2 separate regions of the Homo sapiens genome follow, and region 1 is linked to region 2. A link means that fine-mapping ties the variant in region 2 to the expression of a gene that starts in the linked region. Tissue or cell type: whole blood. Region 2 holds a variant in brackets; the other region holds the start of a gene. All regions are shown on one strand. Distances are between the middles of the regions.

The links. PIP is the estimated chance that this variant, and not a neighbour inherited with it, causes the effect.
Region 1: AP3M2 starts here. The variant in region 2 is fine-mapped to the expression of AP3M2 in whole blood (TOPMed, PIP above 0.99).

What each region holds. Positions count from the first base shown.
Region 1 is chr8:42,148,415-42,156,594 of GRCh38, reverse strand. AP3M2 (adaptor related protein complex 3 subunit mu 2) reads right to left here and starts at 3,532. Exons shown (of 9, transcript NM_006803.4): 1 at 3,490-3,532; 2 at 1,635-1,979. The coding sequence starts at 1,907. RefSeq lists a silencer at 3,017-3,626 and an enhancer at 4,457-4,576.
Region 2 is chr8:42,198,282-42,206,461 of GRCh38, reverse strand. All of the region lies in intron 1 of PLAT (plasminogen activator, tissue type), which reads left to right. Among named protein-coding and RNA genes, the nearest start is that of PLAT, 5.2 kb to the left of the region's middle. The variant C/T (reference allele first, on the strand shown) is at 3,173.

The sequences.
Region 1 (8,180 bases), 50 kb after region 2:
CACATTTCCTTCCCAAAAGTGATTTATTTTTAAAAAATAAAACACTTCACTAGGTTTTATAAACCAGGCATCATGTGAACTAAGCAGCTGGAAAGGAGCCTCGCAATACAGCCAAGTGCTGCAGCCGGCCTGTGAGCCTGCAATTCTATTGCGGGGCCGCTCCTGTCACATTCTGGTCCTGGAAAAATCATGCTGCCGGAGAGGATGCACATCCACATCGGAGACCTGAGAATCAGGATGTCCACTGACTTTTAACAACTGCTTCAAGAATAACAAGCTCTGAAGTCTCAGACTTCCAAATTAGCAAATTTACTCTGCTTTCCCAAATTCCCCCATGGTTTCAACTAGATCAAACAACTCTTCTCACTTCCTGTCTTGTAATAAGTTACATTAGTATGGCCATATAGCGGCTGTCAGTTTCACCAGTGCGACTGTTAATCTCAGAATGAGTAAAGTATCACACGTGGAAATCATAACAAGGCCCAGTTAAAAGTTGTTTAGGATCACAACTCCTGGGTTCTTCTAGTTCTTCCACATACTGGGACTTATACTTACGTTTTCACTGTGCAAAGGGGCCGGTATGTTGCATGAGAACTGAAATTCCAGAACAGTAGTACTACAGAGTATTGCAGGGAAAAACAAAAAATGTATTTTAATTCTCTTGGGAAGGGAAGTTGTTCTAGACGTGGTGCAGATATGAGTACAAGAGAAGGAACTCTTTGACTTGCTTTTTAACTTTTATCATAGTGTGTGGGTCCTCATTCTCTTCTCCAATTCCACAATTCCAGTGTTCATATGACTCATTCCAGACCTCATATGACACAGAAGTTAAACCAAAAGGCCCTCGCTTCTCATTTGAGTTATGCAAATAACCACAACAGTTAGAAGTTGATTGGTTCTTTTGGGAGAAAGTTCCTCTGTGTGAATCCAGGGCCGGTGCTGTCTGAACTCCTGTGCTGCAAATGGTGTCGTGTCCTGGTATCACTGACCTCCCTTGGACATCACCCCCTAAGTTCTTAACATCTATTCCTGAAGAAAAAGCTTAAAATGAAAACTGCCTCATAAAATGGCTCACTTAAATTCTTACAGGCACATGAGATTTCCCAATCTCATCTTTGCAAGCAGAGCTCATCAGTACCACTCTCTCACTATAAAGAACCACCTCAAACCTGAGAACTAGTACAGGTTCATGAGTTACCCCTGACTGGGAGAGTTAAATTAAGCATTCCTTAGCTTTTTCTACTTTTTCTTTTCTAAAACTTTATACAATCACTTTCTGATGCAACTCAAAGCAATGCAGATAACAATGGTTAGGATCAAGACCACCAGGCAAAAACAATCTAAACTCTAATTTGTGAGCAAAAAGTAGAATCAGAGCTAGAAAGGCTATATATAGTCATCGCAAATAGGATGACTTTCCCACGCAAGAGGTTCAAAAGTATTCCATTTGTCATTTTGCATGCAGCCAATTCAATAAATAGAAACCAGAATCTTATCAGATGGGAGAGGAAGTGAGTAATACCAGAGTTTTGATTTTTTTTTTTAAGTTTCTTAATGGAGGCTTTACACAATGGAAACAGGACTACAAAGACACTTTACGGTTTACATATATGAACTTTCCCACATTCACGAACCTGAAATGTGTCCACCACTCGGTGAAGAAACTCAATGACAAACAGAGGGGGGACCTCCGTCTGGATCACGGCCACAAAAAAGATCTTGTGGCGGTAAACACTTAAGAGATAGTGGTGAGGGGTAGGGATAACCGGAGGCACATTTTCTGCCTCAGTAGCTCTCTCTTGCGCCTCAAAAAAGTAATCACAAACAGAACGGCTGACCACACTTTTCCAATGTTTCTCCAGGAAAATGTCTCCAGAGGAGTTGATCAAGAAAAGACTATGGATCATGGTGGCGATTGTCAGTGACAGAAGAAAGCCTTTTTCAGTCTGAAAGCCTCAGGACTCTGTAAGTTTTCAACTCTAAAAACAAAAGCAGCGATATTCAGTTCCATTCAACCAAAAGGCCCTCCCCATCTTTTCCCAACAGTCCAAGACTTACCCATCTTTCAAGACCAGGCCCAATCTTCCCCTCCTGCATGAGCCTGAAGATAGCCCTCCCTTGAATTCGAAACGATAATGATCAGTCATCTGACTGTCAATCATATACTCCCAGTTATCTTTACTATCGCCCAAATTGCATCCATTTAAAATACTACTTATCTGTGGGTGTCTATTTTCTCAACCGAACCGCAAACTCCTTGAAGAAAAGGGCCGTGCCTCATGTTTTGCGTTGCCTGACTGCAACACAATCAGTGTTCTTTGAAGAGGGCTTCCAAGAACACTGAATTTGATGTCATGTTTTGGCAACAGCTCACACATACACAAGAAATGCGCAGCTTAATACGATAGCCACTATGGGACCAGCGAGCACTTGAAAGGTGGCTGGTGCGGACTGAGGTGTGCTGTTAAGTGTAAGACACACGACAAATCTGAAAGGCTTTGCATGAAAAAAAAAATTTCAAATATCTTACCAATAATTTAATATTGATTATATGTTGTAATAACATTTTGGATATCCTGGGTTAAATCAAATATATTAAAATTAATTTAACCTGTTTTATTATTTTAAAGTGGTTACCAGAACATGTACAATTACATATGTGGTTTGCTTTCTATTTCTGCCCACCAGAATTGGTGGGAGGAATGGAAAGCTGCCCTTGGGGGTCTTTATTCATCCAATCAGAGCTATTCTCTGAGCACTCCTTAGGCACTTGTTAATGCAGTAAGACATTTAAAAAGATCCCTTGGGGCTCCCGCCTGTGATCCCAGTACTTAGGGAGGCCTCCGCGGGCAGACCGCTGGAGCTCACGAGTTCGAGATCAGCCCGGGCAACAGAGGGAGAACCCCGCCCCCTCCACCTCCAAAAAAAAAAAAAAATTTCCCTGGGGGACAGACACCCCAAGGCCCTCAGACGGTTGCATCTCTCTGGTGCCAGTCGCCAGGATGTGGCCATTCCGCGAACCGGCGCGGGTGGTCAAAACGCAGAGGCCTGCGGTGCCCAGCGCCGCCTGGAGGAGACAGCAGGAGGGAGAGACAGCCAGGCAGCCCGGGGTGCGAGGGAGAGGCAGCGGCCTAGGCAGGCGGTCCCTGCGCAGGCCCCGGCCCAGAGCCGGCGGCGACGGAGGCCGCGGGGCGCAGGCGGGCAGGGGCCTGGCTGAAGGGGCACGCGCGTTCCGGGGTGAAGAGCGCAGGGGTGCCGGGCCGCGCCAGCGAGCGCACGTGCGCTGCCATGGCAACAGTGTCCCCTCCGCCCGCAGCCGCGGCGCCGGGAAGGACGCCCTCCCCGAACTCTGAACCCGGCCCCTCACCTCTCCCCGCCGCGTCCGCAGCCCTGAGAGGCCGCCCGGCTGCATCCTGAGACCCCGCCCCGACCCTCGCGCGCCCCCACTCCTGCCCCCTCTCCAGGCTCGGGGTCGTCCCTACTCCTCACCTGGCCTTGCTGCTCTCAGCGCCCACTGCTCCTAGGCGCGGACAGGCCCCGCCCCGCCCGCCGCGCGCGCTGAGGCAGCCGCTCGCCCGCTGATTGGCCGGCCCGCGGCCTGGCTACCGCTCCGCCCACGATCTGCGCCTGAAGGCCGCTGATTGGGTATCTGGGAGCCGCTCCTCCCCTCTGATTGATCGCTGTTGGCGGCTTGCCCTGTTGTCGGGCTCGAGTCCCCCGATTGGCCCTGTTGAGGCCACGGTCATCTCCGATTGGTACAGCTCCGAGACCCCGAGTCCTGATTGGAGGTCGAAGACAGTGCGTGCTGCTCGGCCCCACTCATCCAGTCACAAAGGGCTGGGGCGGTCGCCGCGCTCGCGTGTTTGCGGAGTGCGCCTGGAGGGGGCGCTGGAGTATGTGTGTGCCGGGGCGGGGTGGCTTCCGGGCACGAGTTGCTGACAGCGCCTCGCGGTTGATAAATCCTGAGGGCGGCGGCTACCCTGCACTCCATCGGTGCCTTTGGGAAGCGCCGCCTTCTCTGTTGTACCCGGCCGTGGGTCAGGTCGGCGCGGCTGGCGGTGGAGTCTCGGACACCGAGCCCTGGACCCCGACTCTGGAAGCCCCCAGCCCCACTGGGCCGCGGCAGGGCGCCCACCCTCCACAATCTCAGTTCCCAGCCGGGGAGTGAGGGGCTGGGCGGGTCTCTCCACCGCTTTGGAGACCTCAGGACTTGGATACGCTTTTGAGTGGTCCCAGTCGTCCTGATCCACGAAGGCGTGGAGTGGAAGTCAGGACCAGGGGTCGCCCCAGTGACGCAGGAAGTCAAGCCCAGATGCGGTGAGGCGTCGCCAGCCTTGGACCCAGCAGTGGGCGCTGGTGACAGTGGCGACCTCGCCGATGAGAGGTTCGCCCTCCCTAGCATTAGTTGTCACTTTGGTGAAATGGAGCGTGGGTGGCAGCTCCTCCACACACAAGCCCTTTGCTGAGGTGGTGCGGGGGGTTCTCTCCACGCTTGCTAAGGGCAGGTAGTTGGCTGACTTTGAACTATGAAGAAAAGCCAGAAACAAAATGGCAGAATGGTATGACTCTGGGTGGGCTTAGGGACGCTGGTGCCAGAGGACTTGGCTTGAACCCGCTCCAACACTTACAACCTGAGTGACCGTGAGAAAGAACTGTAACTCCTCTAAACTTCAAGTTCCTCACTTCTCAAATAAGAACGTGAATAGTACCTCCCTCCTAGAGTTGTGAGGATTGAGTTAGAAAATGCTAGCAATTGTTATGCCCTAAGGAACAGCACAAGATACAATAACACGTGATAATGTGTGTCGAAGGTGCAGAAATGCAGTCGCTGCCGTGAGAATTTCTCATTCATTCACTGAATTAACATTTGCCGAAAACCCCCACGTATCGACCTGTGCTGGATGCTGGAGATGCTGCAATGACTGCTGTCACAGGCATTGTCCCTGTGGTTACAGGGCCCAGCAGGAAAGACAAATGAGAAGCAAGGGATTGCAATGCAGTGTGATGAATAAGGAACGCATAGGGGGTGGGAGGAGTGCTGTAGAGATGGCTGACCTAGAGTCAGGGAAGACCCTCTACCTTGAAACCTGAAAATGAGAAAGGATCCCTCAAATGCAGGGATAGATGGACAGAGAAAAAAGTACATAAGGAAGGCTCTGCAGATGAGCAAGTTAAGTATAGCTGAGCTGGAATGGTAGGAAGAGCGCAGGGAGATCAGGCTGGAAAGGTAAGTAGGGAGCCTAGTGGTTGTGAACCTTGGAAATGTTAATATTTATAAAACACTGTGTGCCATACACTGTGTTTTATAATTTGTAAGTACCATTCCATAAATATTTAGTGAGCCCTACCATGCGCCAGGCACTGTTCCAGTGCTTGGATACATAACACCAGTAAACAAAAGACAAAAATCTCTTGGAGCTGGGCGCGGTGGCTTACGCCTGTAATCCCAACACTTTGGGAGGCTGAGGTGGGCGGATCACTTGACGTCAGGAGTTCAAGACCAGCCTGGCCAACATGATGAACCCCTGTCTCTACTAAAATTAAAAAATTAGCCAGGCGTGATGGCACGTACCTGTGGTCCCAGCTACTCAGGAGGCTGAGACGGGAGAATCGCTTGAACCCAGGAGGCAGAGGTTGCAGTGAGCTAAGATCGCACGACTGCACTCCAACCTGGGCGACAGAGTGAGACTCTGTCTCAAAAAAAAAAAAAAAAAAAAAAAAAAACCCTGTCCTAGTGAGGCTTATATTCTAGTGGGGAAAAGACAGATAATAATCAATATACATAAGTAAAGTATATAGTAGGTTATAAGATGGCATGTGCAATAAAAAAAAACTACCAGGAGTGTTATGGGATTGGAGGGCAAATTACAGTTTTTAAGAGAGTAGTGAGAACAAGCCTCATTGAGAAGAGACATTAGTGCAAAGATTTGAAGAAGGCAGAAGAGTTAACTATAGGGAGATCTTGGGGGAGAGCATTCCAGCAAAGGGAACAGGCACTGCAAAGCCTGTAAGGCCAGAATGCTCCTGGGGAGTTTCTGGAGCAGGAAGGGTGACAGTGTGGCTGGAGTGAAATGAGCGCAGGGTAAAGGAGGAGACAAGGTTACAGGGTGGGTGGCCTGATCACACAGGGGCTAGAAAGCTCTTTTAAAGATTATGGTTGTGAAAGAGAGAGCCCATGGAGGGTTTGGACAAAGGGGTGATAGGATCTGATTTATCAGTCATCTGGGTTGAGAAGACTGTGCAAGAAGACTAGTGAGACCGCTGCAGTGACCCAGGCGAGAGGTGATGGAGCTCAGACCAGGCTGTAGCCATGGAGGTGGTGAGGAGGAGGTGGACTGTGCGTGTAGTCTCCAGGAGGAGCCAGCTGGATTTCCAGATGGATGGGATGCAGGGAGTGAGAACAAGAGAGAAGGGAGGGCCACTGAGCTTCAGCATGGAGAAGGATAGTTTCATCAGCTGAGACTAGAAAGACTATGGGTAGGCCAAGCACGGTGGCTCATGCCTGTAATTCCAGCACTTTGGGAGGCTGAGGCAGGTGGATCACCTGAGGTCAGGAGTTCGAGACCAGCCTGGCCAACATGGTGAAACCCTGTCTCTACTAAAAATACAAAAATTAGCCGGGTGTGGTGGCGAACACCTGTAATCCCAGCTACTCGGAAGGCTGAGACAAAAGAATTGCTTGAACCTGGGAGGTGGAAGTTGCAGTGAGCCAAGATTGTGCCACTGCACTCCAGCCTGGGCAATAAGGCAAGACTCCGTCTCAAAAAAAAAAAAAAAGCAATCACAAATCTGATAATGTTTTAAGAGAGTTTATGAGTTTGTGTTGGGCTGCATTCAGAGCTATCCTGGGCCGCATGCAGCCTATGGGCCTTGGGCTGGACAAGCTTGCTATAAAGGAATACCTGAGACTCGGTAATTTATAATATTAAAAAAAAAGAGGTTTATTTGGCTCATGGTTCTGTAGGCTATGCAAGCGTGGCACCAGCATCTGCTCAGCTTCTGGTGAGGCCTCAGGAAGCTTTTACTCATGGCAGAAGGTGAAAGGGGAGCGGGCAGTTGCATGGTGAAAGCAGGAGTGAGAGAGAGGAGGTGCCAGGCTCCTTTAAACAACCAGCTCTCTCATAAACCAACAGAGTGAGAACTCACTCATTACCATGGGGAGGGCACCAAGCCATTCACGAGGGATCCAACCCCATGACACCTGCTAGACCCACCTCCAAAACTGGGGATCACATTTCAACATGAGATTTGGAGGGGACAAACATCCAAAGTATATCAATATATCTGTGAGCTCCATTAACTATCCAAGTGGAGATGTTGAGAAGGCAGCTGGACATATAAGTCCAGGGTTCAGGAGAGTGGGCTGAGCTTGAGATATAAATTTGGGTGTTTTCAGTATATGGATATTTAAAGTAGTAGGACCTGTTGAGATGACCGAGGGAAGGAGTGTGGAGAGATAAGAGAACCAGATTCCAGGGACACTCCAAATTTAAGAGTTCACATAAGAGAGGAGGATCTGAAATCATTTAATCCCCCCAACTACTCTAAAATGAATTACCGTTGTGATCCCCTTTTCGTAGATGAGGAAGCTGCAAAGACAGCTTAAATAACTGCCCAAGGTCGAACAGCAAAGCTGTGATTCAAGGACGTTGGAAGATCTGAGCAGAATGGCTCAGATTCCACACTTCCTACCTCTAAGCCCAGGAACCCATTGAAGAAATGTGAAGCAGGAGAGTGGCACACTTTCAGATTTCCATTTCAGAAAGACTATGTGTGCAGGATGGACTGTAACAGGCTGAGCCTGGAGGCTGGGAGGTTATTTAGACAATTGCAGTAATCCCTAGGAGAGAGCTAGTGCCTGGAGCCATGAGGCAGGGATTAGAGAGAAGTGGACACCTTCCAGAGAAGATAGGGATTAGGGATTAATGGAATGTCAGTGGTGAGGCAGAGTAGGTTTCTGATTCGGGCAATGACATGGATGGAAGCATCATGTGTTGAGATGGGGATCACTGGAAGAGAGGCCCCTTGCGGGGAGGGCGCATGAATCCAGTATATAGCAATGCCTGGGGGCATGAACCAAGTTGACACTCAAGTGTTTGTTGAATTGAATCAAGTAACATAGAATCTGAGAGCTCATGTAATACTTTCCCATGACTTTAAGAGAGGCCACAGGAAATCAT
Region 2 (8,180 bases):
CTCAAAGGTGACTTCCTAGCAGTACTTGCTGTGGCAAGAACGCTCATTCTGGGATCTAGACTCAATCCATGACGGTCAGCATGAGCTGCTGGGTGCGTGCTTCCTGTGCAGGCAGAGTCGGACTCCAGCACTGGCAGGGACACTGTGAGTATTGAGATATGAATAGCTCCATCCTGCCCACCCATTTATTCCACCTAAAATGTTCTCAAAGATGCAAGCCTCCAAGCTCTGGATCAAATGATAAAGCCCCAGATCAAAATCTCAGGAGCAAATGAAAGCTGCCCTTGTCTCCAAAATGCTCCTTCTCTGCCCGACTCCCCAAGACCAGCTTGGTTTATTTCACAATGACTCGCGTCGGATTCTCCCAGTGTCTGCGGCTCCCCCTGCTTCATCACAGGCCTGGGACAGTCCAGGCAGCCAGGGAATAGCTGGGAATAGCAGTTCCCCTTTGTTGGTTTTTGAGTTCACTGAGGCTTTGATTTCCCCCAGGGCCTGACGTTGCTGAGCAGAGCCAGCGGCCAGTAGATTTCAAAGGATTCCAAAAAACAGTCAGGCACTCCTTTGTGAACCCAAAAGTATCTGAGACAGGTCTGTCAATTTAGAAAGTTTATTTTGCCAATGTTAAGAACACACATGTGACACGGCCTCTGGAGATCCTGAGGACATATGTCCAAGGTGGCCAAGGTATGGCTTGGTTTCATACATTTCAGGGAGACATGAGACATTAATCAATGTATGTAAGATGTGCACCGGTTCGGTCTGGAAAGGCAGGACAACTCGAAGTAGGGGCTTCCAGGTCATAGGTAGATAAGAGAAGGCTTCATTCTTCTGAGTCTTTGTCAGCCTTTCACTGAATACACAATTTACATATGAGAGGGGGGCAGAGGAAGAGTCACTTATGCCTTAGTTGGCTCAGTGAATCTACTTTTTTTTTTGAGACGGAGTTTCACTCTTTTTGCCCAGGCTAGAGTGCAATGGCATGATCCCGGCTACTGCAACCTCCACCTCCCAGGTTCAAGTGATTCTCCTGCCTCAGCCTTCTGAGTAACTGGGATTACAGGCGCCTGCCACCACACCTGGTTAATTTTTGTATTTTTAGTAGAGACAGGGTTTCACCATGTTGGCCAGACTGGTCTTGAACTCGTGACCTCAGGTGATCCACCCACCTCGGCCCCCCGAAGTGCTGGGATTACAGGCATGAGCCAACATGCCTGGCCTGAATCTTCATTTTTACAAAAACAATAGGGCAGAGGAAGCAATCAGATATGCGTTTGTCTCAGGTGAGCAGAGGGATGACTTTGAGTTCTGTCCTTTGTCCTGTACCCATTTGCATTGCCAAGGTGAAGTTCAGCAGAACTGTTTTAGGGTAAAGATCTTGAAGTCCACAAGGAGTTTCCTTGTGGGTAAATTGTGAGAGAGGTATGTAGCCTTTTATCTTTGTAGCCGTCTTATGTAGGAATAAAATGGGAGGCAGGTTTGCCTCATGCAGTTCCCAGCTTGGCTTTTCCCTTTGGCTTAGTGATTTGGGGGTCTTGAGATTTATTTTCCTTTCATACCTTGGTAGTGTCACTTGAAGCCACCACGCCCGGCTAATTTTTATATTTTTAGTAGAGACAGGGTTTCACCATGTTGATCAGGCTGGTCTCGAACTCCTGACCTCGTGATCTGCCCTCCTCCTCCAAAGTGCTGGGATTACAGGCATGAGCCACCATGCCCGGCCAATTTTTCTTTTCTTTTTTTTTTTTTTTAAGATGGAGTCTCGCTTTTTCACCAGGCTGGGGTGCAGTGGCACAATCTTGGCTCACTGCAACCTCCACCTCCCAGGTTCAAGCGATTTTCCTGCCTCAGCCTCCCAAATAGCTTGGATTACAGGCGCCCGCCACCACACCCAGCTAAGTTTTCACCATGTTGGCCAGGCTGGTCTTGAACACCTGACCTCAAGTGATCTGCCCGCCTTGGCCTCGCAAAGTATTGGGATTACAGGCGTGAGCCACCATGCCCAGACAGGTTTTTCTTTGATTATTTGGCATTATGCACCTGCAGTCTCAGAATAAATTTTTTACTTTCTCTGAGTGATTTTCGCTTCTGCTTTGATGAGATTGTTGGGACGGACAATAAGGGACCAGTGCATTCTGCTCATTCCTTCTTGGGGCCATTTCTTTTGTATATACGGGAGAAAATGTCTGTCTATAGTGTCAGGCTATAAACCTCGTCCTAGTCAAGCAGCTCACAAAACCATATGGTGGGTCTCACATCAAACCAGGTAAAAGAGTGAGGATGATTTAGACTCAAAGAAAATTAGAGCTAGAAATAAATTTAAAGCTCATCCACCCTGCTCCAACCCTAAGTCAAGCCACATGGTCTTCCGATAGTGGCTCAGTTTTCTACTTACATAAAAAGACAGCACATTCTCTTAGCAATATGTGTTTGTATGTGTGTGTGTGTGTGTGTGTGTGTGTGTGTGTGTGTATATATATATATATATATATATAATTTAGAGACAAGGTCTGACTCCATCACCCAGGCTGGAGTGCAGCAGTGTGATCGTAGGTCACTGAACCTTCAAACTCCTGGGCTCAAGTGATCCTCCATCTCAGCCTCCCAAGTAGCTAGGACTACAGGGGCATGCTGCCATATCCAGCTAATTATAAAATTTTTTTGTAGAAGCAGAGTTTTGCTTTGTTGCCCAGGCTAGTCTCAAACTCCTGGCCTCAAGCAACCCTCTTGCCATGGCCTCACAAAATGCTGGGATTACAGGCAAGAGCCACTGTGCCCAGTCCCTCTTAGTGATATTTTGCATATTATATATTCAAAAAATATTTTCTATGTATGCCACTTGGGAAACTTCTGTAGAATGGGATAGAGGGACAGATAAACCCAATTCTTGATCCACTCAAAAATAACACCTGTGACAGAGTGAAGATGAAACAGGTGCTGGGCACACAGCAAGTGTTTTAGAAACATTTTTGAACTCAACTTTGCCTGAGTTGTGGTGCTGATCATGGCTGCCAGGAAATGCTAGCCAGCTGTTCTTCCTATACAAGTATATGACTGGGTGTCTGCAGCAGCTGCCCGGCTGTGAATTGCACACACCAATGGCCAAGACCCAGCAGCGACTTGGCTAACAGGCCCAGCCGATGTGCATGGGTGACCACGCGATGCTCCTGACACA[C/T]GCACTGGTGGCTTAGGGAAGTTTTTTTGAGGATTGATCAGAAGATCTGATTCCACCTGGAGCCTCTGAAGTGATCACTTCCAGGTTAGGCTGAACCCAGATACCAGGAGACCTGTGTATTGAGAGCCTTTTGTTTTTTTTATGTAGTCACAACTATTCCATTAACATACAGCTAGGCATTAGAGAATCCATGCTGGACTCCTACAAAGGCCCCTAGATCCTTAGAACACTCAGAGATTCCAAAGCACACGTCCTCCCAGGACACCCTGGCAGAAGAGCCCGGGGGCGACTGTCACCTTTGCCTGCTGTCGGGAGCTGTGCTGATGGGTAGGGGGCTCTGTGCTTGCTGTGGCCCAGAGCCAAGCCGTGGGGATGTGCTCTGTCTGGAGCAGACCCCTTCACTGTCTGCCTAACTCCTTCGTGTGTTCCCGGAACAGCTTCTGTGTTATGCATTCCAGAAAGCCTGCCTGACCACCCCAACCTCAACAAGCCTGGGATGGACAACCTCCTCCACATTCCACTCCAAGCCCACCCCCGTCCCCACCCTGCTGCGTGGTATGGCGCTGCTCTGCTGTACCCTGAGTGTCTAGTTATTCATCAGGCCCCTTCCTAACTATGAGCTCTTTCAGGATAAGAGCTGTGTCTTTGCATCACCAGAGCCTGTGCCAGGGCACGGCTGGTGCTCCATACACGTTGATGGTGAATATATAGCATGGGTAGATCATTGTCTGTGAATGCTTAACAGAGAAGCAGCTCATGTGGGTGCTTGAGGGCTGGGGGGGCAGGGTGGGGGTCTGGTAGGCGCTGGGAGGAGGACATCCCTGCAGCTTCTCCAGCCCCATAGATGGGACTCTTGATGTGGGCAGTTTTTATTTCAGCTGAGTCTCCAGAAGGCAGGGGACAGGGACTGGGAGGGGATGCTAAACCCGATAACCCAGTATGGATGAGCTAACAGAGGCCGGGCACACAGCTCCTGCCTGTAATCCCAGCACTTTGGGAGCCCGAGGTGGGCGGGTTGCTTGAGCCAAGGAGTTTGAAACCAGCCCGGGTCTTGAACATAGCGAAGACTCTGTCTCTACAAAAAAATGAAAAAAAAAAAAAAATTAGCCAGACATGGTGGCACGCACCTGTAGTCCCAGCTACTTGAGAAGCTGAGGTGAGAGGATCACTTGAGCCAGGGAGGTTGAAACTGCAGTGAGCTGTGATCACGCCACTGCACTCCAGTCTGGGTGACTGGGCGAGACCCTGTCTCAAAACAAATAAATAAGAAAGAGAGACTACTGGTCAACTTGATTTCTGCTGGTTATTCTCTTTCTGTCATGTTCACCAAAAAGAGAAACCCGTTGTATTTTATCTTGTTGTAGCAAGAGCCGGTGTCTAACACCTGGGCTACTGAGAGAAAGCGAAGGGTTTTTTTCTGGGAAGCTCCAATTTCCTTATTTCTCTCACATGATGCCTCTGACTTTCATAGTGTGGCTTGGTCAGATGGGCCTTATCAATAGAGATGGCCTGATGTCTCAGCTGTGTCATCTCAGCTGCTAGTTCTGGCTTCTGCTGGGAGTCCACAGTGGCCTCTGCATGCATGGTGTGGGAAAGGCAAATAAAAAAGCAGATTAAAAACCAGATTAAAGACATCACCCTGTATTCAGGAAATAATGGCTCCTGTTGATACTGTTCTACGAACACAGATGAAGGCACAAAATTCTACATCAATTGCAGAGAATTGGTTATAGGCTAACACAGGTGGTCGGATGATCTAGGAAGCAGGATTCAGTATTAACGGGGATCCATGAGGACCCCATGAAGCGTGGCATCTCTTCTGCATCAGCAGCTTCAAGTTGTTCCAGGGAGAAGCGGGAAGCCTCAGTGCTTTTGTTGAGGAAGGATGTTCATGACAGTAGGTGCAGGTCGCTCCTGCCGTGCACCCAGGTGTGGGGGAAGGACTTTCCTGCTTCTTTTCCAGTTACCTTACAATTCAGCAAGACGGAAATGATTAGCCCATGACAAAAACCAGGAAACAGGCTCAGAGAGAGTGAGTTGCCCACACAGAATGTGTGCTGTAAATGCAGTTAGATTTCCAGGTTGAGAATCCAGTGACCACGCCCCTTCTTTGTGGCATTCTGCTGTCGTATACCATGTGGAACACATTAAGAACGTTATGGCCAGGCGTGTTGGCTCACGCCTGTAATCCTAGCACTTTGGGAGGCCAAGGTGGACAGATCACCTGAGGTTGGGAGTTCGAGACCAGCCTGGCCAGCATGCCGAAACCCTGTCTCTACTAAAAATACAAAAATTAGCCAGGCATGGTGGCACACACTTGTAATCCGAGCTACTCGGGAGGCTGAAGAAGGAGAATCGCTTAAACCCAGGAGGCGGAGGTTGCAGTGAGCTGAGATTGCACCGTTGCAATCCAGCCTGGGCAACAGAGTGAAACTCCATCTCAGAAAAAAAAAAAAAGTTACAATTGGGTGTCACATAGACAGTGAGGAGTAGTGGAAAGAGTGTTAGATTTGGGGTAAGAGAACTGTGTCTCCTGGGCTTGAGTCCTGATGCCAACTCTCACAAGATGTGTCACCGTACAGCACGACGCTTATACTTTTTTTTTTTTTTTTTTTGAGACAGGATCTTGCTCTGTCTCAAGCTGGAGTGCAGTGGTATGATCACAGCTCACTGCAGCCTCAAACTCCCAGGCTCAGGCCATCCTCCCACCTCAGCCTCCCAAGTAGCTGGGACTACAGGCATGTACCACCATGCCCAAATAATTTTTTGTATTTTTTTGTTGAGATGGGGTTTTGCCATGTTACCCAGGGAGGTCTCAAACTCCAAGGATCAAGCCACCCACCCTCCTTGGCCTCCCAAAGTGTTGGGATTACAGATGTGAGCCACCACACCTTGCAAATTTTTGTATTTTTTGTACAGCCGAGGGTCTCCCTATGTTGCCGAGGGTGATCTTGAACTCCTGGGCTCAAATGATCCACCCTCCTCAGCCTCCCAAAGTGTTGGGATTACAGACGTGAGCCACTGCTCTCAGCCCCTTACACTTTTTTGAAGTTCAGTTCTCCCATCTGTAAAAACGAGGTAATAATATTGCCTCAAATGACTTAATGGATGTGAAAGGGTTTAGTAAACTCTGTGCCTGGAAAGGTAGAAGCTACTCAAATATCTGTTGAGTGAGTGGCATTCATCCATGTGTACATTTCTCAGGCAACAATAATGTCACTTTCACCTAAGGCCAGTAAAATGTGGGTAAAGTCATATAATGATACAATGAAAGTTTCTGATCAGTATTTCCTAATTCAAGTGTGTTGAAATGTGGAGTTGGGCTGGAGAATTGTCAAATCATTGCGTATTTAATTACCTTGTGGTGATGTTTGCTTTAGGGAGTGGAAGGAACATGAGGAACGAACGACCTTCATCACGGAAGATGACATTCATTTCGATTCACTTTAGATTTCAGGGCTTGTTTAGATGCAGACTTTGCAGTTAACATTTTATTGCACTGACTGATTTAGTTTTCACCAGGTGGTCCTTGTGTTTGCTTCAGAAGGATCTAAGTGTATTAGGACAGGGTTTCTTCTGTTTTGATTGTGGGAGGAGGCGGGATAGACTTCTGTTTTCCTAGACCCACAACCAAAATTCCCCACTCCTCCAAATAACCGGGATTACCAGGCAGAGGGTGGAGCATTGAGGAGATGACAGCTGGACATGCCTGCTGTAGCTTTTTCTGAGTTTAATTCCATATAGCTTAGACACAGGCCATATGCCTACATTTGGAAGATGTTTTGGAGAAAATTCTGCTCTGATGGGTGGGGGGCAGGGTCTGCCAGGAAAATATTCTATTCTTTTGAAGACATGGGGTCTTGCTATGTTGCCTAGGCTGGTCTTGAACTCCTCGCCTCAAGTGATGCTCCTGCCTCAGCCTCCTGAGTAGCTAGGACTACAGGTGCAAACCACCACACCCAGCTCTGAGAGGATGCTATACTCTTCACTTCATTGGAATTGGTGAAATTAGATAAGAAACAGACTCTTCCTCTCTTCTCCCCTAGTTATAAACAGTTCTGTTAAGAGAGGGAAAATAACCATTTAGCCTATAGAAAATCACCTTTTCGAAAAGTTAAGAATTACTTATGTGATGGTAGTTTTTGAAAGTGGTTTTTATTCTGAGATCATGGCCTCTGTACTATGCAGGGCCTGGAGAAGTGGGATGAGAGCTACCAGGCTCAAAGCTCCTGTCCCGAACAAAGGGTTGCTTTCGTGGGAGCACGCCACCCTTTCCAAGGCTAGTTCCTCTCCCAGCATCTCACTTCAGCTCTCGTCCTGCTCTAGAAACGTGCCTTTGCTGGTCCAAGGAATCCTGGCCGTTTCTTTTCTTAATTGTTGGCATTCATCTGGGCTATGGTGGTTGTGGCGGGGGTGGCAGTGGAGAGTGTGTTGTTTTAAATCCATGAGTCATTTTAGGGTATTGGTACTCTTGAAGACTGACTTTCTCTTGCTCAGGTTTTCAGAGAGACCTTTTGCTAAGCAACAATAACCTAAGAATCTCCTTGACCAAAGATAAATGTAGCAAACTTTGCACATGGTGCAACATTTGATAATAGTATCAATTTACGTTTGTCTTTCCCTTGCAATTTCCCTCCTCCTCTAGCTTGCTCACGTTTCTGCCTTCTTCTTGCTGGCAAGAGTACAGACTATAATTCTCCAGTTCACTAACATCTGGAGCGACTGCACTGTTTGCAATTTCATTGATTGACTACATGTGTACAGTTCCTTTATTGCAAGTCACTTTTCTGTATAATCTTTTTTGAGACGAAGTCCTGCTCTGTCGCCCAGGCTGCAGTAGCGCAATCTTGGCTCACTGCAACTTCCGCCTCCCGGGTTCAAGCGATTCTCCTGCCTCAGCCTCCTGAGTAGCTGGGATTATAGGCGCCCGCCACCATGCCCAGCTAATTTTTTTGTATTTTTAGTAGAGATGGGGTTTCACTATGTTGGCCAGGCTTGTTTTGAACTC